4 linked regions of the Homo sapiens genome follow. The protein of the gene in region 3 purifies or fractionates together with the protein of the main gene of each other region. This does not show direct contact. Each region holds a gene or a part of one and is shown on either strand. Other genes may lie near its edges.

What was found. The genes of interacting proteins can lie anywhere in the genome.
Region 1: the proteins of SGTB (region 3) and USP15 purify together in Homo sapiens (affinity purification with mass spectrometry; one large-scale study listed by BioGRID and IntAct). This does not show direct contact.
Region 2: the proteins of SGTB (region 3) and FURIN purify together in Homo sapiens (affinity purification with mass spectrometry; one large-scale study listed by BioGRID and IntAct). This does not show direct contact.
Region 4: the proteins of SGTB (region 3) and TLN2 purify together in Homo sapiens (affinity purification with mass spectrometry; one large-scale study listed by BioGRID and IntAct). This does not show direct contact.

Annotation. Positions count from the first base shown.
Region 1 is NC_000012.12:62,412,693-62,416,889, reverse strand, and holds the end of USP15 (ubiquitin carboxyl-terminal hydrolase 15), read right to left. Parts: 3' UTR 501-4,197; downstream 1-500. UniProt on the Homo sapiens protein: Hydrolase that removes conjugated ubiquitin from target proteins and regulates various pathways such as the TGF-beta receptor signaling, NF-kappa-B and RNF41/NRDP1-PRKN pathways.
Region 2 is NC_000015.10:90,874,134-90,878,587, reverse strand, and holds part of FURIN (furin isoform 1 preproprotein), read right to left. Parts: intron 3,007-4,454; 5' UTR 2,848-3,006; coding exon 2,671-2,847; intron 2,334-2,670; coding exon 2,235-2,333; intron 2,127-2,234; coding exon 2,031-2,126; intron 1,693-2,030; coding exon 1,564-1,692; intron 1,454-1,563; coding exon 1,377-1,453; intron 1,062-1,376; coding exon 973-1,061; intron 457-972; coding exon 284-456; intron 1-283. UniProt on the Homo sapiens protein: Ubiquitous endoprotease within constitutive secretory pathways capable of cleavage at the RX(K/R)R consensus motif. Mediates processing of TGFB1, an essential step in TGF-beta-1 activation.
Region 3 is NC_000005.10:65,679,785-65,685,193, forward strand, and holds part of SGTB (small glutamine-rich tetratricopeptide repeat-containing protein beta), read right to left. Parts: intron 1,011-5,409; coding exon 872-1,010; intron 773-871; coding exon 710-772; intron 1-709. UniProt on the Homo sapiens protein: Co-chaperone that binds directly to HSC70 and HSP70 and regulates their ATPase activity.
Region 4 is NC_000015.10:62,704,096-62,708,549, reverse strand, and holds part of TLN2 (talin-2), read right to left. Parts: intron 1,465-4,454; coding exon 1,297-1,464; intron 49-1,296; coding exon 1-48. UniProt on the Homo sapiens protein: As a major component of focal adhesion plaques that links integrin to the actin cytoskeleton, may play an important role in cell adhesion. Recruits PIP5K1C to focal adhesion plaques and strongly activates its kinase activity.

The DNA of each region.
Region 1 (4,197 bases), on a different chromosome or scaffold from region 3:
GTCTAAGGTGTAATATAGATTTTTGAGGTGACAAAGAACCCAAATCAAGAGTACATTCCTTGTCTTTGGACAACTGTATTGAACAGATAAATGTTTGGGGTATCCCCAACTCAAAAAAGTATTCCTGGCCTTGTGTAGTCAAAGTATTATTTTTGTGGAGATGCCAGAAGCTCCAAGTTGTGAAAAGCGTCTGAACAAATGGGAATTCAGGATGCCCTCCAACTGGAGCAAGAGATAGCAACTGTATCTTCCTTACTGGAAAAAAGAATTCCTTACAATTAAAACTTCTTTAGAAAAATATAAATGAAATATAAATTTTCTACATTTAATCTTGAATATTCCAAATTCATAAATACCGAACTTAAAATGTTAGTATATCTAAAATGTACGTTTTTAGTGCACATTCATAAGGTAAATTACTTTTAAAGCTGTTAAAATATGTAGCCAGCAACATGTCAGGAATACAACACAATCACAATAAACACAATAAAGCTTCAGACTTTCAGAAAACTTGTTTAATAACTTTTACATTTAGGAACAAATACTATGCCACACATACACCATCTTAACATCTTAAGAACAATATTCTTCCATCAGGTAATTGTCTAGTGGGGGAAGAGACACACGTAACTTATAGCCCAAGGTGGCAGTTGATGTCAGAAGATCTAGCAAGTGCATTTTGGAGCAAGTCTTGAAGGAGTGTAGGAGTTCGCCAGGTAAGAGATAAGGCAGACCATGCAAATGTGGGACAAATGTGGGAAAGCCCCATTGTCAAGTAGTATGACATGTTTGAGGGCAAGTGAGGAATTAGATGAGGGCAAATTCTTACTTTTTTTCCTTCAAGCACCAGGTTAACAGGCAACCTGGGTGGACTGACTGTACCATACTCTTTGCTCTCTTGCTAAAGAAAGTTTATTAGAACTTGAGTATGAATCGTATTGAACAGAGAGCTGCTCTCATTCATAAGGAAGGAACAATCATTCCCATAGTTGGGTACTTCTTTATTAGTAATAATACCTGCCACATTTTTCATAATGATCAAGACACAAAACCTTGCAATTATTCTGAAAGGTAGGTAATATTCAATTACAGTGGTAGGAGTGGATGGCTTAAGTGAATGGGGATTTGGTTTCCTTATAAATATTAATAGCCCTCCATCACAAGCAAACTGTATATTCTGAGAAAAGTCATAGGTTTGCTAAGCAAATATGCAGTTTTAAGTCACATTGTTCCCTTCTAATCAGGTTGCTCACCCCAAGCCTTCCTAGATGGACATTCGGGAGCTGCTCTAGTTTACAGAGAGGTGAAAGGCAGAGAGGTGAGGTGAGTTGCACAAAAGTGGTAGGCTCAGAGGTGGTTTAACTCCTGAGCCTATGGTCCAAACCACTCTTTTCTACATGAAGGGATGTGATGGTTTATTTAATGTGTTGACTGGGCCACAGGGTGCCCAGATATGTGGTCAAACATTATTCTGGGCATATCTATGAGGGTGTTTTTGGATGAGATTAACATTTAAGTCAGTAGACTGAGTAAGGCAGATTGCCCTCTCTAATGTTGGTGGCTCTCATGAATTGAAGGCCTGAATAGAACAAAAAAGGCTCAAGTAAGGATAATTTCTCTTGCCTGATTGAACTGGGACATCAGTCTTTTCCTGCCTTTGCACTAAAACTGAAACATTCAGTCTTCCTGGGTCTTTAGCCAGGTAGCTTGTGGACTGGAACTTTTATCATTGGTTTTCCTGGTTCTCAACCCTTTGGACTCGGACTTGAACTACACCATTGGCATTCCTGGGTCTCCAGCCTGCTGACTGAAGATCATGAGACTTCTCAGCCTAAGTGCATGAACTAATTCCTTATAAATCTTTCTCTCCCTCATATATATATATATATATGTACATATATGATATATATGTATATACATGATATGTGTATATATGAGGGAGAGAGCTATACATATATGTGTATACACATATGCATCCTATTGGTCTTGTTTCTCTGGAGAATCCTGATTAATACAAGGAATTAGAAGAGAACTTTAAGACAGAAACAGGATCTCATTTTTTTTTTTTTTAAATGAAACCATGAAGATCATTCTGGTAGCAGGATAATGGACTGAAGTAGGAAGGGACTGCCAGCCAGATGTAATCCTATTGAGTGCACCCTGAATACACACTTCTATTTTTAAAAATGGGATGCTACATTATAGGCTGCCAAAGACATGTAGTTATTTAGTACTGGTTAAATGAAAATACATGGCCAGGTGCTGTGGTTCATGCCTGTAATCCCAGCACTTTGGGAGGCCGAGGTGGATGGATCGCCTGAGTTCAAGACTTCAAAACCAGCCTGGGTAACATGGTGAAACCTGGTCTCTACAAAAATTAGCCAGGTGTGGTGTGGTGGCACATGCCTGTAGACCCAGCTACTTCGGAGGCTGAGGTGGGAGGACCACTTGAGCCCAGAGGCTGGAGGCTGCAGTGAGATGAGATTGTGCCACTGCACTCCAGCCTGGGTGACAGAGAAAGACCTTGTCTCAAAACAAAACAAAACAAAAACCAGGCATACCTTGTTTTATTCTGCTTCACTTTATTATCATGCTTTGAAGATAATTGTTTTTGTTTTTTTACAAACAAGGCTTGTGGCAAGCCTACATTGAGCACATCTATAGGTGTTATTTTCCTAACAGAATGTGCTTACTGTGTGTGTGTCATATCTTGGTACTTCTCACATTTCAAATGTCTTCATTATTATTGTATCTGTTACGGTGATCTGTGATCAGTAATCTTTGATGTTACTGTTTTGTTTGAGGGCACAGACGTGTGTGTTCCAACTGCTCCACTGGCCATTCCCCATCTCTCTCCCTCTCCATGTGCCTCCCTATTCCCTGAGACATAACACTATTAAAACCAGGCCAGTTAATAACCATCCAATGGCCTCTAAATGTTCAGGTGAAGAGCTGTACATCTCTCTCTCTCTCTCAATCAAATGCTATAAATGATTGGAGCTTAGTGAGGAAAGCATGTTGAAAGCCAAGGCAAGCTGAAAGCTAGGCCTCTTGAGCCAAACAGCCAAGTTGTATATCCAAAGGAAGAGTTCCTGAAATTAAAAGTGCTACTCAAGTGAACACATGAATCATAAGAAAAGTGGTATAGAGAAAGCCTGAGTTTTTTTTTTTTTAATAGATCAAATCAGCCACAACACTATCTTAAGCCAAAGCCTAACGCAGAGCAAGGCCCTCTCTCTTCAATTCTATGGAGGCTAAGGTAAGGAAGCTGCAGAAGAAAAGTCTGAAGCTAGCAGTGGTTGATTCATGGAGTTTAAGGAAACAAGCTGTCTCCACAACAGACAAGCATAAGGTGAAGCAGCAACTGCTAAAGTAGAAACTACAGCAAGTTATCCAGAAGATCTAGCTAAGATCATTGATGAAGGTAGTTACACTAAAAACAAACTTTCAATGTAGATGAAAGTCTTATGTTGGAAGATGTCATCCAGGACTTTCATAGCTAGAGAAAAGTTGATGCTTGGCTTCAAACGAGAGACTGATTTCTTGTTAGGGGCCAATGCAATGCTAACTAATGTTCATTTATCATTCCAAAAATCCTAGGGTCCTTAAAATTAAACTAAATATAATGTTTTTGCTCTATAAAAGGAACCATAAAGCCTGGATGGTAGCACATCCGTTTATAGGAAGGTTTACTAAATATTTTAAGCCCACTGCGGAGATCTATTGCTCAGAAAAAGATTCCTTTCAAAATATTACTGCTCATTGACAAGTGCACCTGGTCACCCAAGAGCTCTATGGAGATGTATGAGATTAGTGTTTTTCTGCCTGCTAACACAACATCCATTCTGCAGCCATAGATCAAAGAATAACTTCAGCTTTCAAGTCTTATCATCCAAGAAATACATTTTATAAGGCAAAAGCTTTCATAGATAGTGATTCCTCTGATGGATCTGGGCAAAATAAAAACCTTCTGAAAAGGATTTGCTATTCTGGATGCCATTCATTCAGAATATTTGTGATTCATGGGAGTCAAAATATCAACATTAACAAGAGTTTGAAAGAAGTTAATTACAACTTTCATGACTTTGAGAAGTTCAAAACCTCAGTGGCGGCAGTAACTGCAGATGCGGTGAAAATAGCAAGAGAACTACAAGTGGAGCCTGAAGATGTGTCTGGATTGCTGCAATCTTATGATAA
Region 2 (4,454 bases), on a different chromosome or scaffold from region 3:
AATCAGACCAAGAGGCCAAGGCGGGAGGATCGCTTGAGGCCAGGAGTTTGAGACCAGCCTGGGTAACACAGCAAGACCTCATTTCTAAAAAAAATGTGTTTTTTAATTAGGCAAGTCCAAGTGGTATATGCACTCTACTCTTCTTCTGTCCCTTAATGTTTCAATAAACATGCTTTGTGTAAAGTTAAACATGAGAATAAATAAAACAAACCAAAAAACACAAGATAGGTACGGAAGACAGCACCCAACCTGCCCGCAGGGGCTGGACAGATCCCCACCTCACCTGGCTAACCCCACGGAAGAAGGCCTCCTCGGCGAGGCGGGCTGGCCCATCCACTGTCTTGCCGTCATCCTCGGGGCCCCAGCTGGCACTGTAGATGTGGATGTGGTTGGGGTTCAGGCCCAGCGAGCGTGCCTCCACTGCATCTGTCACCTCGCCATCCAGCATGCGCACCCCTGGCCGTGAAGGGGGGGCACGAAGAGGGATGCTGCATGGGTCCAGCTGTCAGGGCCCCCACCCCAAGGAGCACACCCAGCCCTGCACCCCAGGGGATGAGTAAGGGAAGGGTGGAGGCTGATGCTGAGAAACCCTGAACCCCCAACTACCTGTTTGCCTCTGCCTTTCAAAGACAAGACCCAGAGAAGGAAAAAGAGAACACCTCCTGCCCCCAACCACACATTCAGGACTAGAAAGAGTCTCTGGTTCCCAAAAGAGCCTGGTGATCAAGGATCTGCCACGTGAGGACTCACAGTGGGTCGTGAGGATTTCAGGAGACTCCTGCTAGGAAACCCTCACTCCACAGGGGTCCAGCTCTTTCAGTCTTTGACCCTTTGGGAACCCTCCATGGAACAGCCACGTGATCAAAGGATCCACAGTGGGAAAGTGGCAGGCATTGGCCAGATGGGAAGTGGGCGGGAAAAATTCCACTGAAGGGCCCTCCTGAAGACAGGGTGGCCCAGGCCCACACTCACCTCCAATGCGGGCGTTGTAGGCCACACCTACACCACAGACACCGTTGTTGGCCACCGCAGCCACTTCCCCCGCACACCGTGTGCCGTGCCTGCCAGGGCCAAGCACGTAGCATGAGTAGAACAAATGGGGTGAACAGGGCCCGGCAGATGTGGCCTGAGGAGCACGAGGGATCCGCACATCCGACACCCATCATCCCCTGAGTACCCAGCCCCCATCTCCCACACTCCACTGGGCCTGTGGCCATCTCCACTCTGACCGAGCCCTCCCTCAGAGCCCCAGGTGGGCCAGGACTGTGGGAAAAGCCTCAGCCTTTTAGGCAAGGCACATCTCACCCAGGCTCAGCCCTGTTCCTTAGTGGAAGAAAGGAGAAGGGAGGCAGAGACCGGGGCCTGCCACTTCTTACCTGTTGTCATTCATCTGTGTGTACCGAGGCTGGGGGTCAGGGTCCTGGTCATTGACATCAAAACTGGCCCCAGGATCCTAAGAAGGATTTGGCCACCATCAGGAGAAGGCTGACCTCACTGATAGAACAAGACAGCCTCTAGACACACCTCAGCAGGGATCACGGCCTCCCTCCCCGACTTCCTCACATAATTGCCTGCCAAGTCCGGGTGGTTCTTCTCGATGCCATCGTCCAGAATGGAGACCACAATGCCGTGCCCTGTGTAGCCCTGCGCCCAGGCCGCCTTCACATTCAGGTCCCGCTGAGTGACACCAGACTGTGGAGACACCCACCCCATCACTTATGAGACATGATTGGTTTTGTGAGGCTAGGAGCATCTTGAAGAATCCCTTTGCCCCCGTAAAACCTCCTCCTGTACCATCCCTGCTCCTGAAAGGCCGCCACTGGCTGTCTGGACTCCATGGGAATGTAGAGGACTCTGGGAGGGCCACCCCCAGGCTTGCTTATTAGGATGGGCCAAGGAGAGACTGCCCAGCAGGAGGAAAGGAAACGAATCAGAGGAGGCCTCGAAGACAGCCTCCTCCATCCAAGAGCTCATAGTGGGTGGATGGTGCATCTGGGGAGGAGGTCCCAGCAGCGAAGAAGGCCACGTACCAGGTACCACTGCTGAGGAAACTTGGGGTCTGTGGGCTCCTGGTACACGTCCCGTTTAGTCCGTCGCTTTGCCACCTGCTGTTCCAGCCACTGTACCTGTGGGGGAGTGAGGGAGAGATGGTGTGGGTGGAGCAGGAGGCGAGAGGGGCTCCTGAGAGCAGGAGGGGGAGGGTGGCAGCAGGAGGGGGCTGGGGCCACACTCACTTGAGGCTCCCTCTGCAGCCGGCTGTGCCGCGGGCGGTGAGGCGACAGGGACCGCTTCGTCACTCCTCGATGCCAGAAGTGGTAATAGTCCCCGAAGATCTGCAATAGAGCAGGGAGACTGAGCTGGGCTTTCCATCTGTCAGTCCCCGGGAGGCGGGGGACGGGGGTGGACAACGGCTTCATGGGAGGCTCGCCACGGTCGGGGGTGCGGGGCATCTGCTCCCTGTCCGGGACCCAGCAAAATGCGGGGACCATGAGGACTCACTCTCACTGGGATATGCTGCTTGCCTGAACCACCTGTGCTTTGCTCATGGCCACCCAGAACATGCCGGCTACCCAGATGCCCCTGAGCAAACAAGGCCAACAGCTCCTGCTCCCAGAATCCCTGTCTTCTCTGGTCCCACCCCCTGGCAGTGTCCTGTGGGGGAACACCTACCTGGCCCAGGTTGAGGAACCCATGCTTCCGTGCCACACTGTTGGCCACCGCTGGGCCTCCAGGGATGCGCACAGCCCACGTGTTGGTGAAGACCTTCTGGCCCTGAGCATCAGCTGCTAGCAGGACCAAGGTTCCTGTTGCTGCTACCACCCATAGCAACCAGGGCCTCAGCTCCATGGGGGGGACAGGTGGCTGGGACCCTGGAGCGCCCGTCTCCTTGGCCTGGTCACAGGGCCTCGGCTCCCAGGTGCCTGCTCACTGCCTGTGGCCCGGGGCTGACTGGTGGGGGCATGGGGCCGAGACGGGCAGGGCTCGGGAGGGTGAAGAGTGCCGACCCTGAGAGGAACAAGAGGGGAAAAGGGGAGAGAGGGTCAGTTCCTCCCCTGCTACGCACTAAAGCTGCCCTGCCCACCCCAAGTTTCAATTGGGGCCTGAAATGAGATCTGGGGGAGAAGGGTAAAAAAATTAGTCCTCCCCAGAAGAAATCTAGCCCCCAAGGCCAGCCACATAGATGGACAGATGGATGCCCTCACAATCCCCCCCAATCCTTTCTCCATGCAAGAATATAAGAAATGTAACAGAAGGGCCAGGCATGGTGGCTCACTTCTGTCATCCAGCACTTTGGGAGGCTGAGGCGGGTGGATCACCTGAGGTCAGGAGTTCGAGGCCAGCCTGGCCAACATGGTGCAACCTCGTCTCTACTAAAAATACAAACATGAGCCAAGTGTGGTGGCGGGTGCTTGTAGTGCCAGCGACTTGGGAGGCTGAGGCACAAGAATTGCTTGAGCCCAGGAGGTGGAGGTTGCAGTGAGCCAAGATCGCGCCACTGCATTCCCAGTCTGTGCGACAGAACGATACTCCCTCTCAAAAAAAAAAAAAAAAAAAAAAGTGTAACAGAAGAAGCAGGATGAAGACTATCAAGCCCTGAGTCACTCAAAATCAGAAACAACAAATGAATAAATGTTCACCATGATCAAGGTAAAGAAGATGCATTATAAAGCAGTATGTACACATAATCCCATTTTATTTTTTAAAAACTATTTATACATGTATATTTATACAAACTAAAGCGAAATCTGGAAGGATACACACGCTAAAAAATGTTAACGGTGGTTCTCTCAAGATGGTGAGAATTACAAGTAATTGTTATTTTCTTCTTTGTGTCACTGTATTCTCCAAATCACCTAGGTATGTTTTACATGGGAATAAGATGTTGGCTTTTCAAGGTTCTTAAATGAATGGCATCTATACAACTCACTAGGGTTTCCTAGTTCAGCAAAGCAGATTCAGCCATAGGGAGTTATTCGCAAAGCCCCACAGCTCCTAGGAAGAAAATGGGTGACCCTAAATGGGATGGTGCTTTTAGGGGCCATGTCCTGAGGGGGTGCGGGGGTGGAGATCACAGAGGCTTCACCTCCCTCTATGGCTGAGATGGCCGCTATCAGCAAAGTCAGGGCCCCAGACTCGTTTTTACAGTTTCCTGGGGAACGCTGGGGCCGCCAAGCCCTGCCCTGCCTGGGCCTGGAGGCCCCCAGCTGCCCCCTTGCTTGCTCCACGCCCACCAGCCTTGCGTAATCCGAGCCCAGGCAGCCAGGGCAAACACTGGCTGCTGAGCCAGGAGCGCCAAGGTGAGACTGAATCAATAGTCCGAGTGTTGTTTTTCCTCCTTCAGCAAACAGACGGCGGGACCTCTCTCTGCCCGGGGCCACATAACTGTCCCCACATAGTGCCCCTGACTAGCCAGAAGCCAAGGCCCTGGAGGAAGGGGGGGAAGCTAGGGGAGG
Region 3 (5,409 bases):
CCATTCGACCCAGCAATCCCATTACTGGGTATATACCCGAAGGAATAGAAATCTTTCTACTGTAAATACACATTCGTACGTATGTTCACTGCAGCACTATTCACAATAGCAAAGACATGGAATCAATGCAAATGCCTATCAATGATAGACTGGATAAAGAAAATGCGGTACATATACACCATGGAATGCTATGCAGCCAAAACAAGAAATAAGATTATGTCCCTCGCAGGGACATGGATGGAGCTGGAGGCCATTTTACCATTTTACTTAACAAACTAACACAGGAAAAGAAAACCAAATAACACATGTTCTCACTTACAAGTGGGAGCCAAATGATGAGAACACAATGACACATGTAGGGGAACAACACACACTGGGGCCTGTTGGAGGGCAGAGGATGGGAGGAGAGGAAGGATCACGAAGAACAGCTAATAGATGCTGGGCTTAATACCTGGGTAATGGGAGGATCTGTGCAGCAAACTACCATGGCAGACGTTTTACCTATGTAACAAACCTGCACATCCTGCACATTTACCCCTGCACTTGAAATAAAAGTTGGAAATAAAAAAACAGAACCCTGCTATAGCCTTATATCAATACTCCACTACAACCACCACCACAAAAACTCACTTGTTTCTAAAAAAAATTGCATAGCTACATAGTCTATGGAAAACATAGCCAGTAGAGGCAGAAAAGAAAGTATACTCACCATACTAATGAAGGCTGGATTATTTATCAAGCTAGCCATGTCAAAGCTCAGTCCAGTTCCTGTCTGTAAAACAATTATATCTGAGAATCAGTCCAGTATCTACAATTACAATAAATTGTGAATGACAGAAAATACTTCACTCATTTGGCATTAACAACTTACAGGACTGGATACCTCTCTTAACTTCTGTTCTGCTATTTTCAGATTTGACTTATAGGAATCATTTTCAGGGTCAAGATCTAATGCCTTTTGATAACTTGTAACTGCTTCTTCAAATTTATTCAAGGCAGTGAGGGCCAGCCTGAAGGGAATAGAATATAAGAATATCAGATATATGATTAAAGAACATCAGGACATCACAAACATCGTCAAACGTCTGTCTGTCTTGGTATTCAGTTCTAATCCAGATTACACTTAATTTATTCACTGTACTATGGCTCACGGGAGCAAAATTCCCTCCAACTTAAGATTCTATATATCTGAACTCACTCCATTCTGCTTGCTGATAACCTGGTTGTCCTATAGATCATGAATTTAATGCTTAGAGATTATCTTACTTACTCTACCATTTTTAAGCTTAATATGTAAAATAATTTGCTTTATAAATGCCTAGACTAAGTTCCAAAAGATGTGAGTTGACAATCATGTGGTCACATAAATCCATGATGCTAACACCATTTTTAAGGACTCTAAACTGTATTTGTGCTTCAAAATGGCCTACATGCTTTCTTCTTCCTAACAGAGGAACAATTAATATCAATTTTCCATTAAGAAAACAGGCTGTAGTTATTAGATAACTATTCCTGATCAAAAGAGGTAGATAAAATTAGCATCCTTTACAATTCAAATAACAAATTATACCAGGCACAAGTCAAAGAGGTATTAAATTTTAATGTTCATATTTACCTAGTTATAATTTACTTATTGAAAAATTATTATAGAACTAAACAATAACTGTATATATGGTGACATAGTATTAGGGGTTTCTGTTTGTTTTAGGTTTGTTTTAAACAAATTACTGTTTTCTTTTCTCTTTTTCTCTTTATCGGAACCTAATTCATTTTCTACCAGTCAACCATGTATGATACTTTATCAGAGTCCCCAGTTAATCAAGAGTCAAGTCAGTAACTATTTACTGAAACTCTATGATGTATAAGAATATTATTAAAATAATATCTAAAGATACTGAGGATCCTGGCTGGGCGCAGTGGCCCACGTCTCTAATCCCAGCAGCACTTTGGGAGGCCAGGGTGGGTGGATCACTTGAGGTCAGGAGTCTGAGACCAGTCTGGCCAACATGGTGAAGCCCTGTCTCTACTAAAAATACAAAAATTAGCCAAGCATGGTGGCAGACGCCTGTAATCCCAGCTACTAGGAAGGCTGAGGCATGAGAATTGCTTGAATCCAGGAGGCGGAGGTTGCAGTGGGCCGAGATTGTGCCATTGCACTCCAGCCTGGAAAACAAGAGCGAAATTCCATCTCAAAAAAAAAAAAAGATAAAGTTTTCTGTCTTTAAGAAAATTTCATTCTACCTGGGGAAGACAGGCAACAAGCATGCAAATAAAAAGGGCAATATTAAAGGAATGAATAGGAGAGCTGCTCAAAAAGTAGCCACATTGGAAAGATCTGAGTGATGTAAAGAAAGCAGTCATGAAAATGAGGGAGGAGCATTGTAGTGGAAATAGCAGTAAACAGAAAGGTCCCAAGAAAGATGCAAGCTTGGTATTCTTAAGGAACAGGACAAGGGCTGATGAGGAGGGAACACAGAAAACAAAGCATGGAGAGATGATGTCAGAGAACAGTTGGGTGCCAGATGATAGAGGACCATTGCTTGGAGTTTGAACTTTATTCTGGTTGCAATGGAGTCACATGATACAATTTGTGCTTTTGAAAGCTCACTCTGGCTTCTACGTAGAGGATCTACATGGGCAGAAGGGTAGAATGGAGGCAGGGAGATCGGTTAGGAAGCTATTGCAGTAGCTTAGGTAAGAGATGTAGTTTGGACTGGGGCTATATGTAAGATAGCGATCAACACTTGGATTCAAGATATATACAGAAACTAGAATTGACAGGACTTGATGACAGAGTATCAGTACTTATGTCAGGCGTAATAACAATGAAGGATGACTCTTAGGCTTCTGACCTGTGCATGGGATAGATAACTAATTGTACAATGTATTGAGATTGGAAAGATTTTGGAAGGGAACATGAGTTCTGTCTGGGACATGTTAAGTTTAAATACCTATTAAACATCCAAACATAGAGTTGAAGAGTAGTAGAATATATGAGTACGGAGTTCAAACATATAAATTAGATCCGATAATATATATAGTTGATTCTTATTCACAGTAGTCCTGTTCTATAAAGTCACCATGAACAATGAATTAGCAAATACTGAACAATTGTTCCTAGGGAAAATACAGAGTTAGGTTCCTGCAACTGTTGTAAATAGTCATATTTTCATCAACTGATCAATATATAATCTTGTTTTTATGTGTGTTTCTGATTAAAGAAACTTTATTTAATATATATATTTTATTCATTAGCATTGAACTCATAGCCAACGGCACTAACTCATGCCTGAATGAAGCTTGTCTCATAAATATATTTTCTCCATAAGGCACATTACAGTCCTCTTGCACTTAGGAATACTAGATAACACTTCAGCCTATAGTTGGGGGCCACTGTAAACAGCAAAATCACAAATAAAAGGCACAAAAATACAAAAAAAAATGTAGCACTAAATAGACTGTTTCAGCATGAGAGCTGAAACAAAAAGATAGAGCATCACCTTATTCACCCTCAGTTGAGATCGAGAGCATCAGAAGACACATTTTCACTAATTGTGCATGTACATGAATGACCACAGAAGCAGTGTAAATATTGATTTGGGGATTACAAATTAATTTAGCAAGTAGGCAAATTCATAAATACAGAATCTGCAAATAATGAGTATCAACTGTAGATGAATTTTAAAAGCATGGAGCAGGATAAACTGAGCAGAGAGAAGACAAAGAAACAGCAGCAGCAGAGGATGCAACCCTAAAATACAGCATTGTTTAGAGATGGTAGAGAGGAAGAACAAGCAAGGGAGACTGGAAAAGAGCATCCAGTAAAGTGGAAGGGGAAACAGGGCAAGTGTAGTGTCAGGATCCTAGAGAGTGATGTATTTTGACAATAAGTTAATAGTGGCCTGTAATCCCAGCACTTTGGGAGGCCGAGGTGGGTGGATCGTGAGGTCAGGAGATCGAGACCATCCTGGCTAACGCAGTGAAACCCCGTCTCTACTAAAAATACAAAAAATTAGCTGGGCATGGTGGCGGGTGCCTGTAGTCCCAGCTACTCGGGAGGCTGAGACAGGAGAATGGCGTGAACCCAGGAGGCAAAGCTTGCAGTAAGCTGAGATCGCGCCACTGCACTGCAGCCTGGGTGACAGAGCGAGACTCTGTCTCAAAAAAAAAAAAAGAAAAAAAGAGATGACAAAGATGAAACAGCAAGTACAGATAACCATCAGGGGCAGAGAACGAGGAACTGAGAAGTGGGATGGTGGCTAGAGGGGAACGCTGGGTAAAGGGATGGGTCCAACTAATGATTTTTTTTCTTTTTTTTGAGACAGGGTCTCACTCTGTCACTCAGGCTGGAGTGCAGTGACACGATCACGGCTCACCACAGCCTCGACTTCCCAGACTCAAGCAATCTTCTCACCTCAGCCTCCCAAGTAGCTGGGACTACAGGTGTACCCCACCACTCCTGGATAATTTTTGTATTTTTATAGAGATGGGGTCTTGCTATGTTGCCCAGGCTGGTCTTGAACTCCTGGGCTCAAGCATTTCTCCCACCTTGGCCTCCCAAAATGCTGGGATTACAGGTGTTAGCCACTGCACCTGGCTCAGTGAATGACTTTTTATGACCTGATCACATGCCAACCATTATCATCTATTAGAGATGGAAGATCTAATGTTGTAGAAAATGAAGGGGATTGTAATAGTTGCAAAGTTGTGGAGAAGGTACAAGGGAATGGGATCTTAAAGCATGAGTGGAGGCAATGGTCTTAGGTAAGAATGCTTCTTTTTTTTTGAGACAGAGTCTCAATCTGTCACCCAGACTGGAGTGCAGTGGCTCTATCTCAGCTCACTGCAACCTCTGCCGCCCAGGTTCAAGTGATTCTCCTGCCTTAGCCTCCTGAGTAGCTGGGTCTGCGGGTGCTCATCACCATGCCTGGCTAATTTTTGTATTTTTAGTAGAGACGGGGTTTCACCATGTTGGGCAGGCTGGTCTTAAACTCCTGACCTCAAGTGATCTGCCCACCTTGGCCTTCCAAAGTGCTGGGATTACAGGCGTGAGTCACCACGCCCAGCCAGAATGCTTCCATTTTAACAAGAAAAAAGGGCATTCTGTGTAGATACAAATGTAGGCAGACTGATGGATTTGCAAGGAGGAAAATGAGTTGTTTTCCTTCAAAAAGCATCTAGCTTCTCAATTAAGTGTAAGGCAATAGCATCAGTTGAGAGTCACCAGAGAGGGGGTAGTGGAAATTTGAAGGGAGAGGAAGAGGTATGAAATCGTCACATCAGCGAGTGGAAAGGTGACTATAGAAGGAAAAATAATAGAACTGTCTGCCTAACTGTCTGCAATATTGAGTGCTCATCTGAGATTTGTGGTACGGTTATATAATTTTCTCCAACAATCAAATCAGTCAT
Region 4 (4,454 bases), on a different chromosome or scaffold from region 3:
AATCAGCTGCTCCTGGCACACAGGGGAGCTAATAGTGGGGCTCACAACCTGAAGTGAGACAGGAACAGGTTTTGGGCACTGTGGTTGAATCCTGGTCCCTCTCCATGTGCCCCCGCAGTCCCATCAAAGCCCTTCCTGCTCTGGGCCTCGGTTTCTTACTTACAGGACCACTGCTCGGTTTCTTACTTACCTGACCATTTCATTCAATGAAACCATTGCTTCAGTCTCACACGCTCTGCTATTCTACTTCATCCTTGTGATTTGACATGTCCCACTAATTTATAACTTCATTAGTCACATGTGACAGTCCATACTACTGCCCTACTTCCATACAGAGAAATTTCTGAGATTTCCCAATTATACCTCCTTCATTTTAGGATCCTTTGAATTGAGTCTTTTGAGTTGGGATACAAAGACTACCTAAAAGAATTCTATTTCTATTCCCAGAAACACCTGAAACTCTGCCTCATAGTCCTTTAAAGAACAGGGGGGTTCTGTCAGTTCCTTGTAAATTCTAGCAGCGTGGACAATGAAAGCTTGAGGGAGACGATGCTGCAAATCTTACCACAGGCTATTGATGCCAAGCTGAGCCAGATCACAGATCTATACAACATGACAGGCCATCAATTCCAGAAACGGACATTTCCCATCTTCTGCTGCATCATCACCGAGAGGACACATGAAGTAGAGGGGAAAGCGTATTTGGAGGCAGATGGACTTGAGTTGTAACTCTAGTTCTGCCACTTACTACTTCTGTGGCCTTAACCTACTGACATCTAAGGGCCTCAGATTCCTCATCAGTAAACTAGAGATAATGGTGCTTAATTTGCAGGATTACCGGGGAGATGTAATGAGGTGATGTATGACACACTGAGTGTGTATACCCTGGCAACAATTAAAATCCCCACTCGGACCCTGTGCAGCCTAGAAAGGGTTCCCATAAACTCTGTGGATTATTTCTGAACCCATTTGTAATGCTGTACCACGCATTGCAAGAACTATTTTTGTGCAGGTGTAAAGATGCACTGAGAAGTCCAAAGGGGAGACACAGCAATTTGCATATAGAAATGAACTAGTGAAAAGTACCAACGGCCTGAGGACTTGGGCAAAGAACAAATGATAAAAGCAGAATTTGACCGCTTATGCTAAAATCCTATCATCACTTAAGACACTTTAAGGAAGCTCTAAATCTCGGACTATTTAAACAAATTCTGCCCCTGCTACACACCAAATGCCTGGAGGCAGGTAACAGCAGGTGATACTGGGTAGAAAGGGCTGGGGTGCCAGCTGGCTTACCTTGGCACATGCCACAAGCTGGGAGGTGGAGAGGGCACACTGGGTGGCAGCAGCAATTACCCTGTTCTGTAGGACAGTGTCTTCGGCCACTTGGGCAACATTCTTTGCCTTTAGTACCAACATGGCAGCTGCATTGGCAACAGCTTTGGCCAAACTCATTAAAACATCCTAAGAAAAGGGAATCAAAGACTATTCATTTATTTTTCTCTAATCACCTTTCACAGCCTGAAAATAAACGTTATTAAAATTCCATTTGATCTTTTTCCTTCAGTACTTTAGAAGTTTTTTTACTTTTTTTTGAAATGTCAACTTATCCTTAGAAGTAATTAAAAAAGGAGACTTGTATCCTAATAACTCAGTCTCTTACATCCATTAAGTAGCATAGGTTTAAATCTAAAATAGTTAATTTGAGGGAAGGGTCATTATTTTAACCACTGATTCCCATTCATGCACTTATCTAACACGAAGTCTTGACCACGTCTCTTGAATGAGTGGCTGATATGGTAGATCAGGAGAAGCTGAAAACATATCCAGATGCCACAACATCATGTGCCATAAGAAGGTTATAATTCATGGCCTCCAGTCATCATGCCCCACTGCAACTTGAAAATGTATCTTTTGGATTTCTACTTTGCACAAAGATCCAAGTCGTCATCAGAAATTTAGCCATATCTCTACCTCCAGAGGGCAACATTTGATGTGCACAGACACATAGCTGGCACCAATACCTATAGCTCAAGAGCCAAGAAATGCTCTGAACATGAGTTATTCTCAGTGTTCTGCAGCCTTCTGGGTAGGAATTAAATTATTACAGAAAGCAGAAAGAGAGCCTATATAAATACACTAGCTATAAGATGGTCTGACTGAAAATGCGAGGAGCTAGTTTATGCTTCAACTCAATGACTAGGCATTCTGCCTGCAGAAAGAAGAATCCTTTGATTGAGCCTACCAGATTTGTCACCCATCTGTCTGACCTGAAGAAGAACCATGGTTACAATTAATTTACTTCTTTGCTTTTAATACTGAAAGTAGTTTATTTGACTTGGAAATGCCTTCCCAAACATATGAGCCATTTTTATTTGGAACAAACACGTCAAGGCTTTTCCCTTCAAGGAAATACGGTCAGAAGTCTTTATTAATTCATCAGATGATAAAGAGCACATTTGATTCTAAATGTAAAGGGCACCCACAGCGTCTTTACAGTGAGATATTTTATGAGAAGATACATTGGAAATAATATTCAGCCTGCACAATTTTACATAGAACAAAGACTAGATACAATCCAGCTAAACCAGAAACCCATGAATCTATCAAGTAAGCTGATTTTAAAATGGACAAAAACTAAGTGGTCTTAAAGGAGCAGGTTATTCCAGTCTTTCTCAGGTCTGTGATGTTTCCTGGCTATCCAAGGTATAATTAAAGCCCATGGTGCTGAAAGCAGAAGATCCCTTTGGGATCTGACTGGCACTTGTCTACCACACAACTTTTAGGAATTGCTCCCACTATGGCAAAGTTACAATTCCTGGACATCTATCTCAATGCTCAGTGAAAACACAGCTTGAATGTCACAAATTATTAAAAAGATTTTTAAAAATAACTTTCCAAAGTAGGTCATAGTATTCCCTCACTTGATATGAATTCATCTTTTCAGATGGGGGGCCAGGATTTGGTCACATAGAATCATGATTGTTCTAAAGGACTTTGTTAGAATTGTTTAAAGAAATCCTGTTCCTCTTATTAATTTTGTCCAAAAAAATACAGTCAGAAAAAGAATGTGATACTACAGCTATAGCTGCTGACAAGGCCTTTGTCAAAATTTTCAACAAGACCACTATTATATAGCCAGTGTAAAATAAATCTTTGTTAACTATGGGAACATGCAGTACATTAAGAAATCAAGAAAAGCTCTGAGATATGATCTCAAGAATCAGAAGAATAGAGTAAGAAATCCAATGTCAGTTACCCATAACTGGAGGAGGTTGCAGGATCACCTTACTGCCCTGGTCTTTACCTAGAGAGCTAAACAATTGAAAACATTCAAGTCTGGCCTGTCCCTGCTAACAAAGGCTCTGTAGGACTGTCACCCTGAACCTGAACCTGCTTCCTTTGCACATCTGAATAGAAACAAACATTAGGAAGCAGGGTTGACATTCACACACAATGAAAATAATCTGCTAAAGCAGGGAGAGGCAGGAAAAGCTTTTAAAAAATACAAGGTTGCATGGGATGTTTAAAGGAAGAATTGTGACTTTCTCCTTAACCTTCCTTGGCACTTTGGAGAAAACAATAATATTAATACTTTTGGGGAACATAAATGACTACGTCAAGATAATTAAGCCCAGTAAAACAGCAGCTGAATCTCATATTTACCAAGTTCCTAAATAGGTACCTGCCTACAAATAATTACCTGCCCTAATATAAAAAGTAAAGGCCAATGCAAGGGCAGTTTGGGGATATGGAAAGGCAAATTAGAATGGGGACACAATTAACTTGGGTTTAGCAGAATATATTGATGTGCAGTTCATTTTGATTCTAGGGAACTTATGACCAGCCATCTCAGTGTAGAAATGGCTTCCAGGAATATTCCTACCACCCATCATATGAATTCAACCTCTATCATGACACGAATGTCTGTACATTGAATGTCTTATTGCACTGCAGGATATGAATGAGTCCCATAGCCCAGTGCCACAGGCATGTGGAGAGTGAAGGAGAAACAAACACATCTATGGATGAAGGTTGAAGTTTCATGTCTCACAACATACATGATCCCATCTTCGTTTAACTAACACATCTTATGCTTATAAAATTTGGAAGTTCTAGATAAAATGGCATGCAAAATTGCCACCCATGAAGCAAGAAACCTGAATGCCAGAGGATCTTTTTGTTCCGTCTATAAAATATTATAAAATCATTGCCAAATGAAGAGGTGGTCAAAACAGATGAAGTCAAAAATGCAGGAAAAAAGGTATTTAGAAGTGTCAGGTAGTTAATAAAAACATTACGTTATTTTTCTAGATTTGGTGATATTTGTGGTGTTAGTTCATATAAGTTCGTAATTTTTTGTGATTTCTTCTAAGTAAATATTTCATTATATATATAAATAAATAATTCAAAAAACATTTTAATAAGTGAAGGCCAATGAAATTCTGTAGAAT